Linked DNA regions of Homo sapiens. The protein of the gene in region 1 purifies or fractionates together with the protein of each later gene. This does not show direct contact. Each region holds a gene or a part of one and is shown on either strand. Other genes may lie near its edges.

What was found. The genes of interacting proteins can lie anywhere in the genome.
Region 2: the proteins of MYH3 (region 1) and TTC4 purify together in Homo sapiens (co-immunoprecipitation; one large-scale study listed by IntAct). This does not show direct contact.

What each region holds. Positions count from the first base shown.
Region 1 is NC_000017.11:10,633,310-10,636,809, forward strand, and holds part of MYH3 (myosin-3), read right to left. Parts: intron 2,545-3,500; coding exon 2,426-2,544; intron 2,255-2,425; coding exon 2,058-2,254; intron 1,715-2,057; coding exon 1,531-1,714; exon of another isoform or gene 1,376-1,530; intron 874-1,375; coding exon 708-873; intron 407-707; coding exon 282-406; exon of another isoform or gene 107-281; intron 1-106. UniProt on the Homo sapiens protein: Muscle contraction.
Region 2 is NC_000001.11:54,739,861-54,743,157, reverse strand, and holds the end of TTC4 (tetratricopeptide repeat protein 4), read right to left. Parts: intron 1,748-3,297; coding exon 1,645-1,747; 3' UTR 501-1,644; downstream 1-500.

The DNA.
Region 1 (3,500 bases):
CTTAGGAGCATAAAGCACTTTCTAGATATTTTTAATTCATGTAATATTTTGTAAAATCTCATCTTTAGGCCTATTTAATATGACAGTCTTCTCCAATAAATTTAAGATAATTCACAGGTATTATTCAGCCTCACAGTTTTGCTGTGTGACGGGAAAGCAGCAGGCATTAGGACTGTGATTTGACAAAGGCAAAAATGGAGACACAGCATGGAGCAGCCAGCCTCCCTGGCCGTGGCTCACCATGGCTGCATCTGCGCCTGAGCCTGCCTCCCAGCACTCACCTCTGCTTCCTCGAGAGCCAGCTGGATATCAGCCTTTTCCAGCTCAATCTGCTTTCTTGATTTCTCCAGTTCATGGATGGTTTTGCCATTTTCAGCAATTTGTTCTGTGAGATCTGCTATCTCCTCTGTAAAGAAGTAAGTTTCAGTTGCATATGAGCGCCTCTGCGTGGGTTTCCAGACATGCAAAGCATTGACTCAATGCTTTTTACCTGGTTTATTATAATCCTAAGGTTTCCTGCTTCCTAGAGATAAGATATTGTACAGAGAGAGGCTAAAACGTAACCCGTCAGATGGTGAACACTTTCTGCATGTGCATTAACACACATGTGTGCAGGAAACTGAGTGATGAAGCCACACCCACGCCAGCATGCTCTCGAGCAATAGAGCATGAAAGGAGGAGGTTTCAGAGGGTTTCGAATAGCTTACGCTCTAAGTTCTTATTTTCCCGTTTCACAGTTTCAAGTTGATCTAAGGCTTCCTCGTAGGCATTTTTCAGTTTGAAGAGCTCAGTGCTCAAGGAGCGGGACTCCTTCAGGGATGCCTCCAGCTCTGCTTGGCTCTCCTCACACTTTGTCTTCCACTCTGCCAACACCTGAAACACCGGACGGAAGTTCTCTCCGTTTCTGAGCTCTCCTCTAGGTTTCTAACAAAATACTAAATAACTAAATTAAATGCAGAGTTAGGGCTACACTTGGCATCACTTGCCTGGCTCCTTGTTGTCGATTATTGGGCTAATCAAGATTCTGTTCCATAAATGTACTCAAGGTAATGAGTCAGGAACAATTGCCATCTTGAAAAAGCAAATAGATCCTTTGAGAAGGAATTAGCTGGGCATAATTGTCCTTTTCCTAATATAAAAAGGGCCCTGTACTTCTAAATATTTCATTAAAGCATTGGTTCCAATCAACTTTATCTGCCATCTTGAAAGAAGGGCTTCCAGAAAGCCTCCCAATAGGATCTCAGCTTAGACAGACCAGTAGTACGGAAAGGAAAAATGCTTAGGACTGCACGGACATTGTAGAAATTGGTTTGTTTCCACGGACAACATTTGAAAGGGACCTCTACCCCCAGCCCATTCCCATTCTGTTTTGCAGATGAGGAAACTACAGCCCGGTGAAGTTCAGGGACTTGCCCAAGGCCACACTGCTGGTGAGGGCAGAGTCAGGTCCGGGATGCATTCTCCTCCTTCCACGGCTGCTAGGAATCCCTTACATCATGGCATTCACCCAGCACACAGCGGACCCCACACCTTGTCAAAGTTCCTCTGCTTCTTGTCCAGAGCGGCGGCCAAGGAATTGGCTCTTTCAACATCAACCATCAGATCCTCCACCTCTCCTTGCAGCCTCTGCTTGGTCTTCTCCAGTGAAGCACATTTAGCATTCACTGCCTCAACCTGTTCCTCGGAATCTTGAAGGCGCTGAGCAAGTTTTTTCCTTAAAGAATATGAAAGAGAAGCAGCTGTTATTTCAGTTTCCATCCACTTGAACATCACTATTCATCAAGTTGGAATCACTAATCTATGTGATTCAGACACCCATGTGTTTTTATACGCCCAGGAGAATTTCCTGTCTACTCAAAATCTGGGATCAATAACTTGCCTTGTGTCTGACCAAGATCAAAGCTGTTTGTTTTAATAAAATGTGCTAACGCCAGGTCCCTCTAATGGCCCAGCACCGCATTTAAAGACACATGAGATGGGGAAACGCCTAGTAATAAAAATAAATTCATCGAATTCATTCCTAAGTAGTTCTTCTAAAAGCAAACAGAGCTGCGCACTTGGCCTCCTCCAGCTCTTCTGTGCGCTGGATGGCGTCCGTCTCGTATTTGGTTCTCCACTGGGCAACCTCACTATTGGCCTTGGACAGCGCCCTCTGCAGCTCAGCTTTGCCTTCCTGCTCCTCCTCATACTGTTCCCGCAGCAGGTCACAGTCGTGGCGGGAGGACTGCAGGGCGTGCGCCAGGGCGTTCTTGGCCTGCAGAAGTTAAAAAGAGAAGAGCACCTGATATATTTAGTGCCAGGTGCATGATACAATCCAAGTGTGTCCCTTCTATCACCACCTTCTGAATGAAGTTGCCTTTTATTTTTTCCTCCTACAGGTGATATTTAAAAATAAGGGCAAAGAAGTCTTCCTTCAATGGTGTACCTTGTTCTCTTCCTCCAGCTGCCTCTTGAGCTCTTCTGTTTGCTGGGTAAAGGCTTGCTTGCTCCTGGAAAGTTGGGATACTATGCTTTCTTTTTCTTCCAGCTGACGACTCAGCTCACCTGTGTCCAGAAGGAAATAGTTTCATTTCATTTATTCACTCATTCACTCACCAACTTTCTATTATGTGTAGGGCACTGTGCTAAGATCTGGGGAGACAGAAAATGATAAGATATGGTTTCTTCTTCAGGGAGAAGGTATATGGTTCATGAAAAGGAAACTGAAAGCAGAACTGATAAGGTATTGTTGTAGGCCAGGTGCAGTGGCTCACGCCTGTAATCCCAGCACTTTGGGAGGCTGAGGCAGGCAGATCACAAGGTCAGGAGTTTGAGACCAGCCTGGCCAATATGGTGAAACCCCATCTCTACTAAAAACAAAAATTAGCCGGGCGTGGTCATGGGCACCTGTAGTCCCAGCTACTTGGGAGGCTGAGGCAGGAGAATCACTGGAACCCAGGAGGTGGAGGTTGCAGTGAGCCAAGATCATGCCTCAATCTCAAAAAAAAAAAAAAAAAAAAAGATATTGTTGTAAACTACTGGAAGGTGGGACTGATGTCTGTCAAAAAAAAAATCCATTGAGAAGAACTGTAAATGTAAACGTTACCAGGAGCACCTAATAACTCCCATCAGACCTCCCCAGTGGCAGGTGTTTCCAGCTGTTTATTGATTTGTTATCGACAAATACATAGGGAAATACTTAGAGCTTTATATCTCTAGTTAGACTCTTGGGGGAATAGGGTAAGTTCAAGTTTATATGCTTACATAGAGGTAAGAGAAAAACATAGAATGGGGCTTTATGGCTCCAGACGTGAATCCCCCAACATGGTAAAAGTGGCCACCATAGGCCGGGTGCGGTGGCTCACGCCTGTAATCCCAGCACTTTGGGAGGCCGACGCAGGCGGATCACGAGGTCAGGAGTTCAAGACCAGCCTGGCCAACACAGTGAAACCCTGTCTCTACTAAAAATACAAAAATTAGCCGTGTGTGTTGGCATGCGTCTGTAGTCCCAGCTACTCAGG
Region 2 (3,297 bases), on another chromosome or scaffold:
TGGTCCTCAGGTCCTTAAGTGGCCAAAACCAGGAGTAGGAAGGAGGCTGAACTTCAGCTTCCTAGCCACAAGCCACAGACAGGGACCGGCACCTGGAAGCTGCATGGTTCTTTGTAAATATTCCACAGCCAATTTCCTTTCAAAGACAGTGAGGCACACTACACAAAACTCTAAATTAGTCTACTTTTTTTTTGGTTTGTGTTTGAGACAGAGTTTTGCTCTTGTTGCCCAGGCTGGAGTGCAATGGCACGATCTTGGCTCACTGCAACCTCCGCCCCCCGGGTTCAAGTGATTCTCCTGCCTCAGCCTCCCGAGTAGCCGGGATTACAGATGCCTACCACCACGCCTGGCTAATTTTTGTATTTTTAGTAGACACGGGGTTTGCTATGTTGGTCAGGCTGGTCTCGAACTCCTGACCTCAGGTGATCCACCCACCTCCGCCTCCCAAAGTGTCGGGATTACAGGCGTGAGCCACCGCACCCAGCCTCAAATTAGTCCACTTTTAAGGACAGCAGCTGGCTTCAGTTTACTCATGTATTAGCTCTGCTATAGTAACAACCAACCCCTAAATCTCACTGCTTACTACAGCAAACATTGCTCTCTCATTGCTGTGACACTCAGTGGCTGCAGGCCAGCTGCTGTAGCTCGGCTCCATGGAACGGCTCCTCTGTGGGAAATGTGTTCTCACAGCAGAGGGAAGAGCACAGGCCAACCACACATGACTCTTCAGGCTTCTGTCAGACGCAGGACAGCTCATGCCTGTGCATATCCCTCTGCATTGGGAGCAGGGAAGTACACTCTCCCGGGGGGATGGGGTGGGGGCACTGCAAGAAGTCACACAGCTACAAGTCAGGATGGATAAACTCCTCTTAGGAATGGGGCAACAAACAGCTGCAGACAAAAATATACTCTGTAACAACCCAACATGCTAGAAGATTTTCCAGTTTAAAAGACACAAAATCCTAAATGTCAAAACTGCAGAGGAACTCAAGAGGCCACTGTCCAAAGTCTGTCACAGTCCTCCATATGGCAAAGATGAAGAAAATTGGCAATCTTTTTAGGGGTACCAAGGATCTGAGTTTGTACGGTCTTTATAAATGCAGAGCAAGATGTGGCTTTCCTGCCCCCATTTCACCTCAAGGCATCTTCAGCAACCCCACATGGCTTCCCTCTGTGCGCATGAAATAACTTGAGGCCAGGGTCTCTCAGCTTTAAAGCCTTGGAATCCTATGCATTGTTTGTTTGTGTGTAGATGTGCAGTTTGAGGGGTAGCTTCTCTAAGGTGTCAAACTCCACAAAAGTTCAGAATCATGTCACTGGATCCTGAGTCCATCTCCACAGACCAGGGTGCCGCTCAGGTCAGTTGCTGTGGTAACTGCAGCAGATGGTCCCTTTAGCGATGGAGTCCAAGGACATCATGGCCAAGACCCAGAGTTTTATATCAACTGAGGAAAGTGAAGACCAGCCAGAGAGGCTGCAGTTTAGGGAAGCCAGAGGCTCCTCCCCCACCACGATGCCAGGAAGGACTATCCCCAGGGTGACGGAAAGAAAGCACTGGACTCCAGCAGTATGTCCAGCTGATTCAGGTGTGCTAGGTTCCCAGCAGAGGAGGGTAAGGGAGGAGATCCAGGGGCCCTGGCTTAGTCATCGTATCTGGTACACCTTTCTCCCCCGGAGAAAATTCTTGCAAAAAGGAGAGGATCCTACACAGACCAAAAATGCTGGTGTCAGGGCTTTTACAAAGTACCTGCCGTGAACACAACAAAAGAGAGGGTGTTAATTTAATTACAATCTTAACCATCCATGCACCTTCCTAACAACATGCAAGGTGAGCCTCTGGATGGGAGTCAACATGAAAATGCAAGTTTAGCACAGTTATGTGGTTGTTCATAAATCTGGCAAATTAGCATGACATTCTCATCCTTACAACCTAGCCAGAACCTTTAGGCCAGTCCTCTGGCATCATGCATGTCTGTGGCTAAATATGAAATAAAAATATAAAGCATGGTTTTATTCATTCATTCAACATTCAGTGGTAAGCCAGGCCCTGTGCTGAAAACACAGAGATTAAAAAACCAACACCCACACACCATCATCTTTGTTCTCAAATTCAGTCCTGGAGGGGAGGGAGATGAGGAACCAATTAATGACAGCAAGGCACAACTGCAGAAGCATTTGTGAGGCGCAGCATTATCCCAAGGAGGCACGATTCCCTCTATGAGGAAGGGAATCAAAAAAGGCTTCCTGGAAGATGCCATGTCTGAACTTGGCTTTAATTTGGGGAAGGGGTGGTGATGGGGGTTGGGGAGCAAAAGCCAGGAGGTGCAAGTAACCAGAATGTTTGCTGTGGCTAGGGCACAAAGCAAAAGGAGTCAGGCAGGCTAGAGAGGCAGGGAGGGCTTTGGCCTCCCAGGGATAGGGGTGTTGTATTACTCAGTGGGCCTGCTTTGGGACAGAGGGCCTATTTCGTGGCTCCACCCAGTTTAGGGTCTGAAGTTGCCAGAAACCAGTCCTGGGTAGGCTCTTGCCTATGGTAATAATTTTAAAGGTAGTAACTTCCAACAGCATTTACATTTTCTGAGAAGCATGAAACGGGTTTCCTCCAAGCATCGGTCTGCTTTCTATTTAGATTTCTCCTCTGGGGTAGGGCAGAACTCAGGCCTTTAAAGAATTCTGGGTAATTTGCTAACAACTGAGAAAATGAGCAGCTAAAAATGTGTCCAAAAACTAGAAGAAGAGAGATTTGGGACCAGAGCAAAACACCACCAAAGGTATCAATCAGATCTGGAAAAACCTTTCCTTCCTGCCTACCAAGCCAAAGCATTAAGACTAGCTGGACACCCCTATCACATCACTCAACACTACACCAGCTCCCATCCAATCTACCTCCTAAACCTCTAATCCACCTCCTCCTACTTCAGGCCTCACCACTGAACAGTACACTTCAAATCTTTACATTACTCTGTAATTTTTTTGGGTAGTGGGAGGAGGGGGTCTCACTCTCACCTAGGCTGGAGTGCAGTGGTGTGATCATAGCTCACTGCAGCCTTGAAATGCTGGGCTCAAGCAATCTTCCTGCCTCAGCCTCCCAAATAGCGAGGACTACAGGTGCACAACACCATAAAAAAGATTTCTATAGAGACGGGATCTCGCTGTGTTTCTCAGGATGATCTCTAACTTCTGAGCTCAGGTGATCCTCATGCCTTAGCCTCCCAAAATGCTGGAATTATAGGTATGAGCCACTGTACCCGGCCTATTCTGTACATCTTTTAAAATCTTTTTAATTTTTAAAAATCA